4 linked regions of the Homo sapiens genome follow. The protein of the gene in region 3 interacts with the protein of the main gene of each other region in a pairwise test. Each region holds a gene or a part of one and is shown on either strand. Other genes may lie near its edges.

The links.
Region 1: the proteins of RBBP6 (region 3) and ETS1 interact in a two-hybrid assay, tested with the Homo sapiens proteins (one study listed by BioGRID).
Region 2: the proteins of RBBP6 (region 3) and EVA1C interact in a two-hybrid assay, tested with the Homo sapiens proteins (one study listed by BioGRID).
Region 4: the proteins of RBBP6 (region 3) and HP interact in a two-hybrid assay, tested with the Homo sapiens proteins (one study listed by BioGRID and IntAct).

Annotation. Positions count from the first base shown.
Region 1 is NC_000011.10:128,577,530-128,584,575, forward strand, and holds part of ETS1 (protein C-ets-1), read right to left. Parts: exon of another isoform or gene 5,468-7,046; intron 1-5,467. UniProt on the Homo sapiens protein: Transcription factor. Directly controls the expression of cytokine and chemokine genes in a wide variety of different cellular contexts. May control the differentiation, survival and proliferation of lymphoid cells.
Region 2 is NC_000021.9:32,408,052-32,415,705, reverse strand, and holds the start of EVA1C (protein eva-1 homolog C isoform 1 precursor), read right to left. Parts: upstream 3,001-7,654; 5' UTR 2,853-3,000; coding exon 2,693-2,852; intron 1-2,692. UniProt on the Homo sapiens protein: Binds heparin.
Region 3 is NC_000016.10:24,570,537-24,573,380, reverse strand, and holds the end of RBBP6 (E3 ubiquitin-protein ligase RBBP6), read right to left. Parts: intron 2,506-2,844; coding exon 936-2,505; 3' UTR 518-935; downstream 1-517. UniProt on the Homo sapiens protein: E3 ubiquitin-protein ligase which promotes ubiquitination of YBX1, leading to its degradation by the proteasome.
Region 4 is NC_000016.10:72,057,486-72,061,582, reverse strand, and holds the end of HP (haptoglobin isoform 1 preproprotein), read right to left. Parts: intron 3,330-4,097; coding exon 3,228-3,329; intron 2,470-3,227; coding exon 2,395-2,469; intron 1,472-2,394; coding exon 693-1,471; 3' UTR 528-692; downstream 1-527. UniProt on the Homo sapiens protein: As a result of hemolysis, hemoglobin is found to accumulate in the kidney and is secreted in the urine. Haptoglobin captures, and combines with free plasma hemoglobin to allow hepatic recycling of heme iron and to prevent kidney damage.

The sequences.
Region 1 (7,046 bases), on a different chromosome or scaffold from region 3:
TAGCTGGCACATAGATAACTGTTAAATACAATAGTGTAAGTTAGAAAACTTGTACACACTTTTTCAGTGTAAACCCCTCTTTTTACAAATGAGGAGAAAGACTAAGGCGATGCTGCTAATTGGCCAAGCTGAGACCAGACTCCTGGTCTTCAGCCTCCTCCTGTGCTTAGAGAAGATGCTTCTCTAGACCTTTGTTACCCAGCGTCCAAATCATTTTTGCACCCAAACAGGTCTCATGGATGCTGCTTAGCTGGGGAGTAAATCTTCAGATGCCACAGTTGCTTTGCATTTATGCAATAAACGTGTGCAATGCTAAGAAAAAAATTGGTGCAGCTGATGTTCAAGCAGTTGTCACGTGGGAGGGAATTCTCTTCTGCCAAAAAGCCAAAAAAAAAAAAAAGAGAGAGAGAGAGAAGATGCTTCTCTAAGCACCCTCATCACCCTGGATGGCGAGGACAGAAACAAGCATGAGATGGAGAAGACAAAAAAGTCAACACTTTGGCTTATGTGGGTGTCTCATGTCCAAAAAATCACTTTAAAACTATGGTTCTGCTTGATTCTAGAGAGTTCTATTCTTCATAGAGCGAGTGACCACTTCTCCAACTTCCCACCCTCCCCAAACTGGCAACCCGGCCAGGACCTGTAGGCTCTCACTTCCTTTCACCCAAAGCTTGCCAGGGCAGGGCAGGGCAGGTTGAGAGACACAGAATAAAGGAAAAATTAGGGAGGAGAGGGACTGTTCAGGCCAAGGCAGCAGAAGAACAAGAAATCCCAAAGAGACCAGGCTTGAATCAAGGCTGAATCCAGTTCACATCAACTCTGACCCTGCTTGGCTGTATTTCTAGATAACTTTGACATCAGTTAAGCCTTTTTCATTTGGGGTTATGTATTCCTAAAAGAAAAACTACGCTTTTAGGTAAATACCAAGTAAATTACACTTTAATTTTTTTCTTTTGAAAACAAAATTCTTTTGAAATCAGCAGTTTTTGCCAAACTAATACAATGTTACCGCAAAAATTAAAATACAAAAAAGTAACAGATGGATATTAGAATCACCTGAAACCTCACCATGTAGAGATAATTATACTAATAATTTGTTCAATATTCTTCTGGGTATTTTTTAATCTATCTAAACGAACATAGATGTCACACACACACACGTGATTACAATTTTACCTTCATGAGATTATTCTCCACATGTTCTTTTGTAACCTGCTTTGTTCACTGACATTTAACATAATGCTATGGACATTTTTCTCTGTTGATAAATGTGGCTGTCTATCCTAAAGATGATGACTGCCAAGTATTCTATTGTATGTATATATCATACTTTTAAAGAGCCTCTTATTATCGTATAATTAATTTGTCCCCAATTCTTTGTCATTATAAAAATTCCTAAAATATTTTACATTCCCACTAAATGCCGAAAAAGAGCATTTTGGGGACAAAGAAAATATGCATTCCATATTTGAATACATATTGACTAACTGCATTCTATAATAGACCAGCCAAAATTAGACTCCCACTGACAAAGGCATCATGTTTTAAATTTCAACTTGCCCTCTCGTCTTCATGTTAGCTTCATAGGCAATGAATTATGGTTAAAACATATCCTGGGTATGAAGATGGCACATGGGGAATTCAAAAGCACAATAAAGCTGTGGCAGAAAATGTAGATTTCTCCCCACCACCCCTCACCCCAGCCTTTCCTCTTTGAAAACAATGCAAAATTTGAATAGATTTCCAATGAGCATTTATCCTAATGTCAATAATTTAGGATTCCTATCAATTCAAACAAAAAGCATGTCCTTTTGGCTTGGAATACAGGAGACAAAGAATTTGGCTTCCAGGGCTGGGCTCGGTGGCTCACGCCTGTAATTCCAGCAATTTGAGAGGCCGAGGCAGGCGGACCACCCAAGGTCAGGAGTTCAAGAGCAGCCTGACAAACATAGTGAAATTCCATCTCTACTAAAAATACAAAATTAGCCAGGTGTGGTGGTACATGCCTGTAATCCCAGCTACTTGGGAGGCTGAGGCAGAAGAATCGCTTGAGCCTGGGAGGCAGAGGTTGCAGTGAGCCGAGATCTCGCCATTACACTCCCACCCGGCAACAAGAGCAAAACTCCATTGAAAAAAAAAAAAAAAAAAGAATTTGGTGTCCAAAACAACTAACCATGTAAAAAAAACTTGCTCCAAACAACAGCACTTTTGCCAAACTAAAGGCAACACCTGGGCTACCAAGGCAACATCTTTAATCTACAATGTATAGAGTTTTAATTTCTTTTTTCTGAATACTATAGAAATGTATTTTTGAAGACTCAGAGTATCTCCTCTTTCAGGAAGCTTTCCCCTCCCCCCTACCCTCTTTGGCAATTGCATGGACCTCCTTGATGCCCCTCCATGGGATTTACTGTAACGGTGTAACAAAGTTCATGACACTTCCTGTATCTATGCCTGTTTCTGCTCCTGAATGATGAGTAACTTGAGAGTAAGGATGGTGTCTTTTCAGATGACACATAGTAGCCATGCAACAAGTGTCTGTTTACTAAATGAGGGAAAGTACCTAAAGTACTTGAAACAGAGTTGGTGTGTACAATCCTTGTGCGTCCTGAGCTTATCCAAGAGAGTAAGTTATCGTTTGGACATTAAAAAAAAAAAAAAAAAAAAAAAAAATCCCTGTGATGAAGTGTGTCCTTGTGTGACCCTGAGGTTAGGCTTCTCAAGAGTTAACTACAAGCAAGATGGCACTTTTCTCTAAACTATAGGATGTACCAGATTGATGAGTTCATCTATACTCCTTCAGTGTGTTCTTTCTGATTCTCATGAGTAGCCCACGTGTATTTCCCAAATCATTTGAGTAGATGTCTTCCCTGACCTGTCACTGTAACAAAAGCTCCCAAATCCAATTCTCTAAGAACTCAGGTTTAAGATCCATCATATCTAGGAAAGCTGAACATTCCTTACTCCCCATGGAAACTTTGTGGTTACAACGCATAGAAAAGAAAAAGGATTAGAAGAACTGAAGATGGTTTTTCTGTCTCACTACTAAATCTACAAGAACCTCATTTGCTTGACTAAGTAATCCAACATTACAGTAGTAGTGAATATTCCTTCTTATTTTAAGTAGCCAGCACTGACAAATGAAGGCTGTGTTCCAAATTATGGGCTACTGTCTTCTGTGTCTTAAGCTAAGTGCATTTATTCTTTCACTAAGGTTACAGAGCAGCAACTCACAGTACAATTAACATCTCAGTCTTTGTTTCTTCACAACTTCACTATAATTATTCCGCCAACCCTTGCTTAAATGGAAATGAGTCATATCCATCTCCTATTTCTCTAAAAATAAACCCATCTCCTAATTAAGCATAACACTTTCAAGTCCTGTATGAATTGACATAGCTCAACGAATCCTTCTTAGAATATTAAAATGAACTCATGTCATTATAATTTTAAAGAGTATATTGTTTTACCCTTCCTTGAGGAGTAACTCGCTACTATCTCCTGAAAAAGAGAAAGACTAGAAGATGTTTTACTCTGGTATACCATAGCAGTTAAGAAATAAGGAATGCTTCATAGATTATTTTATGCATTTCCTTCTCAGTGGAAACAAATCCCTCACCATACAGTACTGAAATGGCATTGTCAACAATGGACAGAAAGGTCTTGCTTCTCCTAGGCATCAAGGAAATACATTAAAACCTGCCGACTCTTAGGTCTAGGAATCTAACTAAGAAAATGCCAATTCTAGTCTCTGAAACCTTTGAAATACTAACAATCTACACTTTCTAGTCAATCATACTTCTGTCAGAACATCTTCCTGAAGATCAAAGGTAATATTCAATACACTGCCTTACCATAAAAGTGGCCATAGCCTGTGTACAAATGCTATGCCTCAAATCCTGTATTTTACCATGAAATTCAACAAATGATCACACTTGGCCTTAGGATGTACTCCTGAGCCAGAAGCATGGTAAGTACTCATAAATAACTGAATAAATAAATAAGGATTGTGTTTTACTTCGAACCTCAAAACAAAAAAAGAATAAGCTGGAGGAATAATGTAGAGTACTCTTTGCTTTCCAAGAATGGTCGTAATAGAGGCCATGGAATAAGAGATTGTTTTCCAAGTCAAATGCAAAGAAGGGCCACGAGATTAAAAACGTCAACTCTAATCCAATGAATGCTGCCAATGAAACCTCTGAAGAGACTAGCATTTTAAAGAATTACATTACAGACTCTTAGCCTGTGAAGCATGTCAGACATAATCTAGAGTTTAGACTTGGCTCTGGCTCTAAAGGAATTCTCAACAAAACTGAGAGGCACCATAAATAGAAAGAGATATTACAAGAACAATGAGAGGGGACTGGATAGTTGCAATAATGCCCCTTTAAAATTGAACTAAAAGATACCAGCTGCCTTAGATCTCTCAAATCCAGCAAGCAACTTCTTGGACTATGTCTGATTGTGATTTTCATGGTGGAGTTTCATTTGTTTTATTACCCGAAATGTAAGGTTCCAATTTCTCAGTATAATGCTAAACAGCTTGCTAGCATTCTTATATAAAGAGGGATTGTGCAATTCCAGTGAATTTTGGAGTTGGAAAAAATTCATCAATCTTCTCATTTATTTCAATGAACTGAGTCCTAAGAGGTTACGTGTTTAGCAGTGATCAAGAACCCTGGAGTTACATACTATGGGTGAACGTAGAACTGCTTGCTGCGTGTATGGCCATGAGCAAATTTCTTAACCTCACAATCAGTTTCCTCAACTATAAAATGCAGGTAATAATATCAACACTTTCAGGATTATAGAGGAGGATCATACAAAACACAAATACTTAGCAGCATGCTGTATAAATAGTAAAAATGGTCAATAAATAATAATTGTTATTATTGCTATTTTATCAGTAGTGCCTGGCAATTAGTAAGCATTAGTAAATGCTTACTAATGTCACTAATTAGTAACACTACTGTTTTATATTAATTACTTTTTTCTACTGCCCAACATGGCAGAGGTTATTTAAGTGTTAGAGCTAGAACATGGATAGCTAAATCTCTCATCTCTTTTTCTAAAGACTTGTATTCAAGTCATGAAAACAGGATTCCCTTTCATAATCATAGGTTGAGTAGCATTAGTCAAGAATTTTGCAGGAGAAAAGAGCCACAATTTCTGTTTAATGGTAGTCTGTTTGTACCATTGTTATGCATAAAACCAAGAAGTAAGCATTTTTCTTACAGTGGAGAACTAACTCATTGAAAGATTGCATAGCACAAATGGTGAAATATTGCAGCTTCCTGAGTTAAACCAACATCTTTTTGATATAATGTCGATCTTTTGTGGACTTACGCTTTAGCAACTAGATACAAATATAAGGAAGTAGTAAAGCACTGCGGAAAATAGTGCAAGATTTCTTGTTTGTTCATTTTTTTCATTTTTGCTTTTTCATTTGTTTTTGCTTTTTCTTTAGAGCAGTGCCTCCCAAACTGTAATGTGCATATGAATCACCCGGGGATCCTGTTACAATGCAGTCTGCTGCAGTAGGTCTGAGGTCTGGCCAGACATTCCACATTTCTAACAAGCTCCCACGTGGTGCTGATGCCGCAGGTCAGAGGACTTCACTGTGAGTAGCAAGGCAGCGCTGGACTAACTTGGTTGAACTCATGAGTGATTATAACAAGGTAGGTGTTTAGGAGGCAGAGCCCAAGGAGGAACAGGCAAGACTTCTGTGCCAAGGCTGAGCAGATGCTGGTAACCTCAGGTGCAATACAAACCCGGCTGGGGAGAATTGAGTAGCTCAGGACCTGTCAGTGTCTCAGGAGCCATATGCCAGATGCACATCTGCCAAGACTTCTTGCTTTTCCTAAGAAGACATGGTTCTAGTTATTTGGTCCCTTTTATCAAGAAACTGGCAATGGTGCTTTCTCCCATCAACAGAAGTCATTTGGATTAAGGATTACAAGAGGTGCCAAGAGATAATTTAAAAGAGTTATTTGCATTATATGTTTTTTTTTACAATTGTAAAAGACTCACATGTTTTGGAAACTTTTTGTACATTGTTTTGCAAACTTTTATGCATCTGGAATTATTTCAAAGTGAAAAGTTTTTTTTAAGTCTCTAAAAAGACTAAATCTCTTTTAAATCTCTAAAAAGACCAAAATTCTGGAGTTTTCTACCTTTCCACATCTCTTGAAAATTTATATATTTTTTCCTCCCCATTGAGAATATTTTCCTGACATTTGCACTAAATGTTTGTTGCTTACTCTCATGCTAGTAAGTACTACCCAGCCTGTTCCCTCTAAGTTCTGAAGGCAGCTCCAACACTTGATTACTGGAATATGAAATCTATCCTCTTTTGAAAAAAAGGCAGATCAGAAACATCCTTCCCTCACTGCTCTAGATACCATTTTTTTCTACCTGAACTCCCAAAGCATGTATAGGTTATACTACACTACTTAATAATTATATTGTCTTTCATTTTTATCCTCTTTTCTAGTAAAGATTATTGTGTTAATTTTAAAAATGGAGTTTACATATTGTTTCTTCTGTGTTTGGTATGGTCTCCAGCACAAGGCTGGGCATGGAGTAGAAATAAAACTGATATTTGTCAGGGAAGGGACTGACTTACTTACCCAGGAAACTAGGCCTGGGTAGTCTTTCTTCAAAGTCAGTATCTTCATAACAATGAATAAGTAATCCACAGATACCACTTCAGAAAACAGGCTTAATCCAGTGTTCTCCTAGATAAGCAAATCAGTCTAAGCAGAAAAATCTATCCTAAATTTGTGTAAATGTCTTAGAGTTACTTAGATTCCTATGACATGCAGTTCCAATCACAAGCTCTGGGTTCACATTCCATTGGCTCTAATCAGGGTCCACCATGAGTTAACACGGTCATATGACTGAGCCTCAGAGTCCCCACCTGGTAAATGGGGATGACGAGAGTGGAGTGCCCACCTCAAAACTTCATTGTAGATTAAATGAAGCAGTCCCTGCAAAGCACCTAGCAAGGATGTTGGAACATACCAAGTGCTCAGTAAACGTTAGGG
Region 2 (7,654 bases), on a different chromosome or scaffold from region 3:
GCAAGCTTGGAGGTGATTAGAACAAGTCACGAGCATGGACAGGGAGGAGGAGGGGGCCATGATGCTGCCTCTGGCTTATTAAGAGTGAGATCGATGCTGGAATCCCTGAGGGCAAAAAAAAATCAATGACCCAGGAAAACGACACCAGCTGACAGCCCCAGGAAAAGGCTCAAGGAAGAGCCGCAAAGAAGAGAAAGGCTTAAGGAACTTTCCAAAACTCTGCACTGCTAATCTCCTGGGGGGAGAAAGGGGCCTATATTGTACAGACAATGGCTGGGACCCCTGACATTCTGGCACTTTCTTTCACATGGATACACCATCCTCCCTCCTCCTTCACAGGGCAGAGGGATCCCAAGTTTCCTCTATCCTCTGCTAGTTTTTGATGTTCCCTTTATTTAGAAAAACAGGCAAGTATCTGCATTGTCAAACACTGCTCTCTAGCCCTGGTTATTGTGATCAGGCTCTGCAGGGGAGGATCCACTGTCTCCTTCCAGGCCTCAGTTTTGGTTTCTATGCACTCCTTCAAGTTCATAAAAAGGAACAGGACCGACTGTCCCAGGAACACAGGCGGCAAGCTTTGAGGCCACATGGGGTTCGCGTCAGCTGAAACACTGAACCGAACAATAAGATGGTCATCTTTGGAGCTTAGGAATTTGCAGAGGGAGGGCGGCTAAAATCCAAGTCAAATGAGCCAACTTTGGAAGATGATCTTTCTTTCTCCCTGAGATTTTTCTAATATTTCCCTGACCTCACATGATATAGAATTAAGGTTTAAATTTAAGTGCATCAGTGGTTTGGGAGGACATTATATTTCCTTTCTTCTCCCCAAAAGGCTTCTGACATGTTCTGCCTAATCTTCAGATCTCTGGAGAGCATCACTGATGAGAGGAAAAATGGGGGCTCGTTGTGGGTGGCAATATCACCACCTACTGCTGGCTCAGGGAGTTTGAAACCCTGGAATTTAGGTTCGTATGGAAAGCAGAAGAAAATGCCTTTTATCATTTATACTATTTAGAATAACATGTATCAAATCATTCATTTTACTAAGGAGTTGATAGCTCAACTCCACTGTATGTAACAGTTGCTAGATACAGACAATTCCAAACTTGGGTGGTAATCTATAGACTGTTACAAGTATTGCAACTGCTTCCCTAAAGCAACAGAACTCTAAGTGTCTATAATCTGTGAAAACAATCTAATGGTTACACTGCAATTTGCCTAAAGCAATATTTGTTCAGTTGCAATGATGTCACAAACACAAAAAGGCTTGTCAGTTTTCAATTATTTCCTTAGAATTCAGAGCTAGATGGTGGCTGAACTCAGAACTGCTTTCCATAGCTCAAATCAGCTAATACAGAGCTTTTCTAGCAGCCAAGAAAGTTCTAGTAGTACAAAAAAAAAAGTTAATAGCCCTTGAAAAGTCTGATGCATTTCCCCACAACTCTTACCACAGAGTTCTGATCCTGGGATGCTTGATTTTAAGGGCCGTGGGTGGCTTGCCAAATAGGCCTTATCTTGGCTTCCTTTGCTAGGTAGGAATACTGCCTTGATATTACATATTCAAAGCAAAGAACCTCTGACCTAAGGGCTCTCCACTAACAATGACATTCTCTGTAAGTAAACTAGAACCCCATCTCAACTTCTGGTTTGCCCTTGTTCTTTGCTATGTACTAGCCTACTGCACAAACAGGACTGAGGAGGACTCCCTTTACCACCATTATGTTGCAAAAGACTCTGCACTGAGGACCCGATAGGGACCGACTGTGCAAAGCCTGAACTTGGCAGAAGATCCCTGGAGAAGGAGGAGTATGGGGCTCAGAGCTGCTCCCTAAGCTGGGCTGGGGAAGGCTGAAGGCCTCCAGCCTTGCCAGAGGGAGATCCAGGTGTGCTTCAGCGGCAAGGACATGTGTTACCTTAAGCAACTGCAGCGCTAACTTAAGCATGTGCTCCTATGGCTATCGTCAACCTAGAAATCCCTTTCACTTTGGGGCGTCACACCTGTAAGCTCAGAACTATCTGAGATCCGCTGCGAGAGCCTGGATCACGATTCCCAAAAAGAAAAGCCTCCTAGTTTATTCGAGAGTAGGAAGTCATTATTTTCTGTGAAGGAAACTGGAATTGGAGAGGGAGGACCCTGGTACACTTTGGCAGAGAGGCTCCTCTCTCTTATCTAAGTATCTCCTCATCCCTCACTGCCTTTCCACCAGACCTCCAGTCCCCGCGGGCTTCCCTTTCTACCTGCCAATGTGGACTCGAGGTCAAGTGTCCCCTGGGCTAGTCTCCTTACATGGGCAAACGGGCTACGCGGGTGACAAACGCGGCGCAACGCCTCCGACCACAACACGTGTATTTTACAGCGCTGGGCGCGGCACAGGGCTCAGTTTAAGGAGCCTCCATAGAACGAGCGTGGCTCAGGACCAGGTCCCTAATGCTAGGAAATTGACGAGGTCAACAGCAGGGCGAGAAACTCTGAATACATTACACACCCTTCCTTCTTGGGAGTGGCAGTCCCCCGTCGCCACTTCACTCGCAGCCATCTATATGCCAAGGGCTCACACCAGACAAGTGTCTGTGAGCACGCCTCAACTTTAATCCTACCCCGCCGTGTCCACTGGTGCGGCTGCCCCCAGTCGAGGGTTCACCTGGGCGCTCCGCGGTGCCGGGGGCACACAGCCAGGGAGGGCGCTCTTACCAGAGAAGTCGGTGAGCGCTGAGATCTCTTTGGAGCAGACCAGGACAGTGCAGTAGAAGAGGCGCAGGAGCTGCCCCGGCGGCTCTACCTGCCGGCGGAGGCCGGGATGCTGCACGGGCTGGGGCGTCGGCGGTTGGCGTGCGCGTCCCGGCAGAAGCATCGTGCGCTGCGCGGCGGGGCGGAGGCGCAGGCCCGGGACGCGCTGGGGGTCGCAGGGCTAAGGACGGCGTCACATGGCGGGGAGAATCGATGGCCAGCGGCTCCGCGGCCCCCCGCCGCCTCCCTGCCCAGGCTGCCAGAGCCTCCTCCCCTGCGCGGGCCAGCCCAGGCGCCCCAGCAAAGGGGAGGGGGCGGAGAACTGGGGCGGGGCGAGGATCCCCGAAAAGGATCCGCGTAGTTTCCCCGAGAGGAAATCTCCGTTGCCGCCGTGCCGGAGGAAGCGAGGGGGGCCGTAGGGAAAGCGCAGCCTTCGCGCGCCCCGCGGCTGCCCAGGCCGATCCCTGGCGCGCTGCCCACCGCGGAGGGCGCCCCCAGTAGCGCGCCCCGGGCCGCGCACCTTGAGCGCCTTCCACACCCGGGAAACAGCCGGGCACCCGTGGCCCTGCCCGCGCTGGCCGGGTGCCAGCCTCGCCCTGGCGGCAGAAGGAGCGCGGCCGGTGCCCGTGACGCACTTTGGAGCCAGCGCCGCGCGTGCAGCTGGGGCGCCCCCGGGGCGGGGCCGATCGGGGGCCGCAGGAAGGTGGGGTCCTGGAGGCGTGGGATCGCACCGCTGCCATCCCCGCCACCCGCCGCGCGCCACGTGCAGTCACCCGGCACATACAGTTATCGCCATTCCACAGAAGAGGAGACTGAGCCCCGGCGCCGTGCCCAAGCTCTCGCAGCCAGGACGGCGACGAGCTGGAGGTCTCAAAACCGGTCAGATGGCTCCGGAGCCGGGATCTTTAGCTCCAGCTCGGCTTCCTTTGGGTGCTGGTTGTCCGCAGCGCTGGGGGATCTGACACTGCACCGGCGCAAACAGCCGCCGAGCGCTAATAATTGGGCTTTGTTTTAAAGTGGGCCACAGCATCTTTCTGAACCTCTAGACTGTGCGCGGGGTGACCCACGTTCGGACGCCCAGCCAGTGGCCTAGGAGTGGCCTGCGTAGCCCCAACTCAAGGGTATCGAGGACAAGTGCGCGAGGGGCTCCGTGGCTGCTTGCCGGGTGCGGGTACCTGGCGCCCAGCGACCCAAACCCTATGGATCGCGCGGGGCCGGCGGAAGGGAGGAGGGCGGGCGCTAGGCACACAGTGTTCCCGAACCCGGCGGGAGGGCCTGCCAAGTTCGCGGCGGGCGTGACGCGGAAACGTAGATAATGAGGCCCAGGGCGGGGCCGGACGCACTGCCCCGCGGGCTCCAGAGCTGCGAACGCCCCAGAGTGTGCAGGGAGGCCTGCAGAAAGAAAATGCGGCTGAGGGTCCCCGTGGGACCCACTCAGAGGTGGGCCGTAAAGATCCCGGAAGGGTGGATGGCATTAGATACCACCTAGTACTCCAGCAAGGGCTGGGTCACCGAATTGGGATCTCGGCCTCTTCTTCCAGTCTGGGGAAAAGTGTGTTAAATGCTAAACATCAGTGTTTATCGAGTGAGGCCCAGCCTGTCTGGCATAATGATTTTTAAAATCTACATTCAAATATTAAATAAAAACTCAACCTCCCCAATAACATTTGAACATAAATATTAGTGTGCGCTCTCTAGGTTAGGGAAACTGAAGCTGGGAGTGTGGGTAAGGATGCCCAGCACTTAGGAGCCACAGGGTAAGTAATGTTTGTCCAAAACTCGGGTCCCTCCTGTACTTTCCATTCTGTCTGTTCATTCATCCAGTTTAGATATGAATTGGTACCAACGTGTGCCAGGTTCTGCGCTAGTGACTGACAGTGTTGGCACAGGGAGGCAGCCATGCTCCCGAGTCCTGGGAGTGGGCAGCACTGCCCTGTGGGTCTGCACTGGCTTCCAAATGTCTAAGTGGGCACTGTTACTCACTGTGACAGCATCCCCAGGCTTTCTTACCTGGTAAAGCAGAAACTCAAACATACTTACACACCAATATTCATTGCAGCATTATTTATGATGGCCAAAAGATGGAAGCAACTCCAGTGGATGAATGCATACAGTTACTATTACAGCAGGGAAGACAGACATTGGAAAATAATGCCCCGTGAACGGACAGTCACGAAAGACAGGAACCATGGGAGCAGAAGCGAGGAATGAAGGAGCTGAGCCCGAGGGAGGAAGGGAGATATTCAGGAGCATTTTAAGGCAAGATGGATGAGAAAGCTAGAGGATGAATTGGCCAAGCAAAAACTAGCAAAACCCGGGTGTTGCGGGAGGATGAACATTTTAGAAAAAGGGACCAGCATGTTGAAATCCAAAAGGAGCATGGCTGTCTTGAAGGATGGGGAAAAGTCTAGACAGCTGGAGCAGAGCAAAGGGAAGAGCCAGGGGACTTGGAGGTAGGCAGGCCAGAGCTCAGGGCCCTGGAGACTTTGGTGAGAATTTCCGTCTTTTATCTTAAGCCAGCAAAGAACTGTAAGTACAAAAGTGATGTGATTGGATGTGTGTTGGTAAAAAGTCCTTCTCGGCTGCTGAGTGCAAATGGACTGGAGGAGTCAAAAGCAGGCCCTGGAAGTATGTGTGCCAAATAACTAAAAGCAGAGACAGACTCAAACAGATACTTATGCACCAATATTCCTTGCAGCATTATTTAGAAGAGCTGACAGATGGAAGAACCTCAGTGGATGAATGGATAAACAATATATGGCATGTGGCCGGCTGCAGTGGCTGGTGCCTGTAATCCCAGCACTTTGGGAGGCCGAGGTGGGTGGATCACCTGAGGTCAGGAGTTCAAGACCAGCCTGACCCACACGGTGAAACCCCATCTCTACTAAAAATACAATATTAGCCAGGTATGGCGGCACACGCTTGTAGTCCCACCTACTCGGGAGGCTGAGGCAGGAGTATTGCTTGAACCCGGGAGGCAGAGGCTGCAGTGAGCCAAGGTTGCACCACTGCACTCCAGCCTGGGCAAGACAGAGCGAGACTCCGTCTCAAAAAAGAAAAGTGGGTCTGGGGAGATGGCCGTGGTGAGGGAGAGAGTGCAGTCAGGGGTTTATGGCTGTGCTTGGGCTGATGTGCTCGCTGTACACCCAGAAAGAAGAGGAGAAGCGGCCACAATGGAAGGATGTTTAGAAGGCAGATGGACAGCACAATGCGACCGGGCAGTCGTGGGCTATGAGAGGGTCTGAAGGACGTCTCCCTGGCTTCCCTCTGTTTTGTCCCTTAGCCCCTCACTGTTAAATCAGAAGATTTTGGTCCTAATCTGATCTCTTTAAGAATTTTGGAATCTTGCGAGAAAACTGAATTGCTCAGTTATCTTTCTCTCTGGACCCCACACTTTTCTAAGAGCTTTGTAGGTCAAATACCTTAACTCTGAGGCACTATAACAACTCATAGGACGGAAAAGTGGGAAAAGGAATATATGTTTCAAAGAGGGATGAACAGTGTAAAATCAATCTGGGGTCTGGAGAGAAATAATCTTTTCCACCGAGGCAGTTTTCCTTAAATGCTTTCTACTATGATGGAATTTGAATAATAAAAACAGTCATAGCCACTTGGTATTTCAACACAGTTATGGGAGCTGGAATTAAAGTGAATGATGACTGGTGTGCCAAATAATAAAGTGTTTCCAAAATATTAATACTCACAACAACCCTTTGAGATAGGTACTAACTAGGCTAACTACGTCATTTACTTGCCCAGTGCAAAACGAAAATGTGGGGCCCCTCGTTCAAGGATTATTAAGAATTCCAGGATGATAATAGCAGAGCATTAAACCAAGCATAGTTTAATGCTTTGAACACAGGGCCCTGAGTGATTGCTCAGGTCATATGAAGCTGGCCCAGGTACAACAGGAATCTTCATTTCTCAGATGGGGAGACTGAGGGCACAGAGTCATACTGACCGTCCGAACCAAGACTTGAAGCCCTCTTATACTGCAAAGGCACAGCAATTAGGTGGAGGTAAAATAAAGGGTTCTTTTCTAAGTGATGGCACCATTGGGCAATCTTGTTCCTTCTTGTACTAGTTTGAAAAGTGCCTCTGTAGTCACAGCATTCAGTCCATGTGTGCAAGAGGCAACCTTTACAGGACATTGTAAATTACACGTCTTACTTTCTGTCTCTTTGTTTTCTTTTAAAGCAATTCCTGCACCTTCTTTTCAGCTCCATGTTACATCTCTATTTTCCTTCTTCCTTGAGATCCTAGCTACTTGTCTCTCACCCTCTGCCATATCCAAGCCTATTTATTTTTTCTTTAGGTGGAGTCTTGCTCTGTTGCCCAAGCTGGAGTGCAGTGGCACGATCTTGGCTCACTGATATCTCCGCCTCCTGGGTTCAAGTGATTCTCCTGACTTAGCCTCCCAAGTAGCTGGGATGACAGGTGTGCACCACCACACCCAGCAAATTTTTTTTCTTCTTCTTCTTTTTCTTTTGTATTTTTAGTAGCGACAGGGTTTCACCTTGTTGGCTGGGCCGGTCTTGAACTCCTGACCTCAGGTGATCCACCCACCTCGGCCTCCCATAGTGCCGTGATTACAGGCTTGAGCCACCAGGCCCAGCCACCAAGCCTATTATGGGAGATGTTTATGTGCTTCACACTCAGACTGCAACCCTGAGCCATGTCCTCTCACCTGGGCCATTGAGGTAAGGTTTTTGGCTTCCAACAAATGGGCTGTAGCCCTTCTGAGAAGACATAAGCTGCCATTTGGAAACCTCAAAGAAACCAACCTTTCAGCTCAGGAGAGAGAGGCCCAATGTCGTCTGGAGCTTAAAAGGCTTTTTTTTAGAAAGCAACAAATGGTAGTTTGTTTCTAGAGCTGGCACCACAGAGCCGCATCAATAGCAAGGAGCCTGCTTGGTCAGAACTGCA
Region 3 (2,844 bases):
TACCTTTTCACTGTCCCCAGGTACACTTCCCGAACCACAGCAATAAAGGAAACTCATCGTAAGTAATGACCGCTTGCTTGTCAACTGGGCAGATTGGGTAGGCCACAAGCACTCACTGGTTTAGCTGCATTCTCCTTTATCAAGGAATTTAATACTTATTTATCAGGGTTTCCAGAAAAATACGTGGCCATAAACGAGTCACAATTCTGCATCTCTAATATTCAAATCCAAACCATTTTGAAAGTTCAAACTTCGAATTTCTATGTAATTCAAGACTCTCCTAGATTTATTTAACCACATCTCCAATTAATCCTGATTCATTTCTGGCCTCTACCACCTGCCCACCTATGAAATGTATCTTCCATGTTTAATTTAGAATTCTGTATATTCAGTTCAGCTTGTATTAAAAACTAAGAATTTTAAAATAGGAAAATGGAGACACACATACAACCTGCATCTGGTGGGTTAAGTATACAGATATGGCACTACTTTCTGTAAATAATGCAAATACTCAACATTTGAAAAGTTTACTGAAAACTTTTATTGTAATCAAAAAGTGACATAACAGGGTTGTAATGAATTCAGCAAATCATTCTGCTGATATTTTAGAACTTATATCAGCTTTTGCCAGGCAATTAAAAAATTCAAATGTGAAAATTTCACATTACAGTAAACTCCACCCCAACTAATTAATGGTGGTTAAAAATAATAGGCCCTAGCAAAACCTCTCATGTTACATGGTCACAACTCACAATTCTGTACAAAAGTTCGTGTTATAAAGCTCTGATGTAAAAATCAAATAATCAAGCAGCAATATTTTAAGTGCAGCACAGGGTCTTCCATGTCATTATTTACAAGGCTTGAATCTCTTTACATTATAACAAAATTTAATACAGATGACTTAGTAATTAAGTCAATTTAAAAAATCTGTCTTTTTACACAGTGACAGATTTCACTTTTTGGTCATCTTTCTCCTTCTCCTTCTCTTTATCTTTGTTCTTCTTTGACTTCTTTTTCTTGTGTTTGTGTTTTTGGCTTTTTTCCAATTCCACTTCAGTGCCTGCATGTTTCTTATGCTTCTTATGCTTTTTATGTTTCTTGTGTTTTTTCTTTTCCTTCTTTTTCTTCTTCTTCTTGCTGTCCTGACTTTCTGCTGAGCTGGCACTGCTACTGTGGCTTCGGGTCTGGCTTCCAGAAGGACTGTGGCTTCTGCTGGGGCTGACGCTGGGGCTGCTGTGGCTCTGATTCCTGCTTATGCCCACCTGGACAACTGCTGCTGTGTCCAGGCTCTCTTTTGCTTTCTCCACTATTTTATCTTTCAGGTCCTTAGAAATGTTTCCTGAAGATTCCTCTTCTTTTACAGAAACATTACTTTCACTGTCACTTTCATTATAGTCTGGTTCAAAAGCAGCTTCATCAGTTTCTCTAGTTAAGTCAGAGGAAAGTCTAGAGGAATGACTTAACTGGGGTTTAGGCTTGACAGTACTCTTGTCAATTTGCCCAGTAATTTGCTCTTTTTCAACCTGTGTCTCTGGTGGGTTAAGTATATAAAGTAGTTTATTGCCACTTGACTCTTTATTGTTCCTTGCTTCTAATACATGCTTCTCACGATCCTTACAAGGATTTTTATCTACAGATTTTGTCTCTTCATTTGGCCGTTTAGTATCATAAGTGGCTTTGTGATCATGAGGTTTTCTGTCTCTTGAGGGACTAGAATTACTTTTTTTGGAATCTCCTGTTCCTTTTTTAGGCAAATCTCTCTCTTCCCTTGGTTTATTTTTCTGTCCAGATGCAGAATCTTTATTCCGAGAAGGAGAGTCTTTTCGTCTTGTTAATTCATTCTTTTCATCTCTACGTTTGGAACTTGAATACTCTCTGGTGTCATAGTCAGTTTTTTTGTCTCTATTGGGAGTGAAGTCTTTATTTGAGGAAGCACGAGTGGAATCATGTTTATCTGACGTTCTAGCCTCTTTGGAAGATTGAGACAGACTTTTAAAATTTCCTTGTTCATTCAGACGGTCCAAATTACTCTCTTTCTCTGGCTGAGTGCTGTTCTTCCTCTTTTCAGGGTTCTCCTTTTCCAACACTGAATAATCTCGATCTTTGGTTTTCCCTTTTTCACTAGATGCAGAGTTTTTTGAACTTTTAACCTCATGTTGTATGATTTCATGGCTCACGTCCTTGGTGAATTTCTGAATTTTCTCGGATGGCTCACTTTCTTTCTCAGGATACTTGACTATATTTGATGGCTTTGTACTAACATTTTTTATAACACTAGCAGGTTTTCCTACACTTGATATAGGCTGTGTGGATTTAACATCTTCTTCTTCAGATTCAAAGTCATCTTTATCCCATTTGGATTGAGGAACCTGAATCATAATGATAACATCTTCAGCTGGCGCGGTATTGTCATTATTATATTCTTCCATCGTTTTAATCACAGTTCGCTTTGTATCTGTTTTTTCTTCAGATTTCCGCACAGGACTGCCTCCAGTTGAGCTCGTACTAAAAAGAATAACAAAATATTTTTAATTAATGAAGAATTTACTATTAATTATAAAACACTGATAAATATAAAAATGCTAACTTAAACACAAATGTCCTTTTAACATTAAAAAAAACAAAAAACTTATTCTGCCCTAAGGAAGACACACAATTTAAGATTATGATTGTATCAACACAAATGTGGCTCACCCCCAAAATCTATTTACAACCTTGTCTTTGGCAATTCCCTTCTTCAAAGACAACAAAAGACTACATAAAACCAGCCTACTTCCCTAGATCAGCATTCATAATTAATATAAAAAGCACAAGCATGGATAAAACTGAAGAAAATCCTTCTCC
Region 4 (4,097 bases), about 47 Mb from region 3:
AAGTCCAGAGATCCTGCCTTTACATCATTGTCTTTTGTTTTCTGGAGTGCTGGTAGGTTAGATCCCAAACTCTGAAGTACTGTCTGTGTTAAAACACTTTTTCCCCATCCCATTTTGAGCTAGCCTCTTCCTCAACCAGGCCCATGCCTTTTCTCCTAATTCACTTTGAGGAGGCAACAGCATGCAGTGAAAGGACCTCTGAGTTTGTATCAAACAGACCTGGGTTCAAAGTTCTGCTTCCCTGTTTCATAGCTATGTAACCTTAAGCAACTCACTTACCATCTCTGAGTCTCTGTTTCCTTGTCTGTAAAACAAGGACAACAGTTAACTTTCTGGGACCTAGCATTCAATAGGCACTCAATCAGTGAGCATGATTCCCTAAGGTGGAAGAGTTTGTATCACCTTCGGGATTTCCAGTGGGTTTAGGGTGTTTTCTGCCATACTCCCAGTAGACTCTATACCTTCTGACTACCCTGGACCATAAAGGAGCAAATAAAAAAGACTCAAGACTGAACACAACACAGAAATGGGTCAAAAGAAAGCTCTTTATTGATTGACTCAGCAATGCAGGGCTGGCACCCATCAGCTTCAAACCACATCTTATCGCATCCACTCCTGTCCACTCCCGTCCACTTTGCCCTCTTCCAGGCTGAAATCTTGCTTTCAGGCAAGGGCTTCCGGCCAGCCTTGCATTAGTTCTCAGCTATGGTCTTCTGAACCCAGTCCTGGATGGAAGTCACCTTCACATACACACCATACTCAGCCACAGCACAGCTCTTATCAAAGCTTAAGATCCCAGTCGCATACCAGGTGTCCTCCTCCAGGTCGTGAACGGCAAAGGCACTGCCCGCATCGCCATAGCAGGTGTCTTCTTGGTACTTAGACATGCCAGCACAGAAGGTGTGTTCATTCAGTATGGGCTGCACCCCTACAGGGCTCTTCGGTGTCTTCTTTTCGGGGACTGTGCTGCCTTCATAATGCCTTATGCATTGGTCTTGGTCAGCCACAGGCAGCATGACATACTTCAGATGGTCAGTAAATTTAAAATTGGCATTTCGCCCCCAGCCAGAAACATAACCCACACGCCCTACTTCTGCATAATCCTTTGAAGGTAGGCAGATGGGCATCACTCTCTCATTAACAGACACCTTCTGTTTGAGTTTGATGAGCCCAATATCTACCTGGGAGTAGTTAGGGTGTAGAACAACCTTCTCAATCTCTACAAGCTGCTTTTTCCCCACATAGAGTGTTAAAGTAGGGGCAATGTCTTTCGCTGTTGCATTTTCTGAATGGTTCAGGAAGAGATTTTTAGCCGTGGTCAGCAGCCATTGTTCATTGATCAGCGTGGCACCTGTGGTGAGATTATGGTGGGAAACCATCTTAGCCTGCCAGGGAAAGCTGCCTTTGGCATCCAGGTGTCCACCCAGGATCCGCTGCACTGGGTTTGCCGGATTCTTGGGCTTCCCACATACTGTCAAGGAGAGCAAGACACTCGTGAGTGGAAATGTGCAAGAGCCTTTCCATCTGAGAAAGGGGTGAAAGCATGGGCGGCTGTCACTGCTGCGTAAAGTAGAAAGATTTAAATGCTTTGCCCTTACCACCTGCTGATCTCATTTCCAATAGTTGCAGTTTTAAAATAATTCTGTTTTTTAAATTGTTTACATTACAAAAAGCTCTATTTCCCACTTTTCTAACAAAGGAAGTGGGAAATACTGAGATTTTTGAGCCCTGGCTGGTGAACTGTATTATATTTAAACAATTATCCCAATAAAGGAATTTCCACAATTCCCTGAAATTCATTGAAAGGGCTAGGGGCTACAATAATTCATTCTCTCTAAAGAAAGATGAATCTAGAGCAGCACTGGCTGGAGCTCAGATTTTGTAGATGGTGCAGTTAATACGAGGCAGGTTGGCATTTCCACACCAGTAAGAGCAGAAGAGGCTGGGCCTTTGCCTCTTGTTCTGAGAATGAAAGGAGAGAGCAACAGCTCCTCCTAATAACGAGAAGCAGGAGTTCCAGCCCATGTCCAGCCTCCTGCTAGGCTTCCATGGATTAAGATTTTATGTCATTCCTTGACTTGTTCTCCCTGGAGCTTGCTTCTCCTTAGACCCAGGGCTCTCTAGCAGGCTCTCTGTATGCACAGGCTCTCCTAATCTGTGGGCGATGTAGACAATGGATTCAGCCAGTGCCCTTCAGGCCCTAATGAACAAGACCCTTGGTGACCCTTAGGGAGTCATCACCTAACTGCTTAAGTCTCTCCCTGGCCAGCTGCGGTTCTCCCACATCCCTCCTCCTGGCTCTTGTGTGCTCAGAGGAAGCCGCACTGGAAGGCTGTGCCTCTAGGACGTTCCCCGCTGGACGCCTGCCTGCTCTCTTAAGTGCTCAGCACCCACCTGCTTCACATTCAGGAAGTTTATCTCCAACAGCCTTATTTATCCACTGCTTCTCATTGTTTAAGGTGTACACTCCTGAAACAAAAGGCAAGAAGTGAGCCAAAGGAGAAGTCAAGTCTAGACCCCGTGCAGAGTGAGAAGGCATTTAAAGAGAAGAACTAAAAGGAAGAGGAAAAGGGGACAAAAAGGAAGGGGAAAAGGAGAGAGTATATGAGAAGGAGGAAGGGAAAGAGTGCTGTGCTGGAAGCCAAGTGCCTGGATGCCAGTTAAGCCCAGCAGAACACACTGTGGTCATGGCGGTCACAGCCAAGCAGTACAGGGAGGGCTCAGGGTTCAAATCCTGACTCTGCCTCTTACAGGCTGCCTGAATTTGGGCAAGATACTCAACCTGTCTGTGCCTCAGTTTCCTTATCAGCAAAGTGAAAACAATAAACTCTGTTCAGAGGGATACTGTGAGGACTAAGTGAGCAAATAAGTATAAAGCCCTTAGAGCAGTGCCAGGACAGCAAGACTCACTAGGTGAGGGTGACATCATCATCAGCATTCCTTCTTTTCCCACATCTGCTGGAGATGTAAATGTGACTCTGAGATTTACATGAGGTAGGCTGCATGGCATCGCCTCCCCTTAACAAAACAGAAAACTTGAGGCTGACAAAAGTTAGTCTGCCCAAAGGGCCATGGCTACTGGCGACAAAACGCTTATTAGAATCTAAATCTCCTGGCTCCAAGGAGAGCAACGAACTTTCTGGCGAATCACCTCAGCACCACCCATCATGGAAATGTCAGAGAAGGGGGTTGTATGTAGGGCATGGAGACAGTTGTCCACATCTTACCATCTCCTTCTGTGCGCAGTTTGTAGTAGTTCTTACACTGGTAGCGAACCGAGTGCTCCACATAGCCATGTGCAATCTCGGGGGGCTTCGGGCAGCCGTCATCTGCAAAGAGAGAGAAGCCAGAGAGTTTGCTATTTGGAAATTGTTCCCAGTGAACCGTGAAAAGTCAGATGAGCGGGAGCTGCTCTGCACATCAATCTCCTTCCACCCCGAATAGAAGCTCGCGAACTGTATTATTTTTAAACAATTATCCCAATAAAGGAATTTCCACAATTCCCTGAAATTCATTGAAAGGGCTAGGGGCTACAATAATTCATTCTCTCTAAAGAAAGATGAATCTAGAGCAGCACTGGCTGGAGCTCAGATTTTGTAGATGGTGCAGTTAATACGAGGCAGGTTGGCATTTCCACACCAGTAAGAGCAGAAGAGGCTGGGTCTTTGCCTCTGGTTCTGAGAATGAAAGGAGAGAGCAACAGCTCCTCCTAATAACGAGAAGCAGGAGTTCCAGCCCATGTCCAGCCTCCTGCTAGGCTTCCATGGATTAAGATTTTATGTCATTCCTTGACTTGTTCTCCCTGGAGCTTGCTTCTCCTTAGACCCAGGGCTTTCTAGCAGGCTCTCTGTATGCACAGGCTCTCCTGATCTGTGGGCAGTGCCGACAGTGGATTCAGCCAGTGCCCTTCAGGCCCCAATGAACAAGACCCTTGGTGACCCTTAGGGAGTCATCACCTAACTGCTTAAGTCTCTCCCTGGCCAGCTGCGGTTCTCCCACATCCCTCCTCCTGGCTCTTGTGTGCTCAGAGGAAGCCGCACTGGAAGGCTGTGCCTCTAGGACGTTCCCCGCTGGACGCCTGCCTGCTCTCTTAAGTG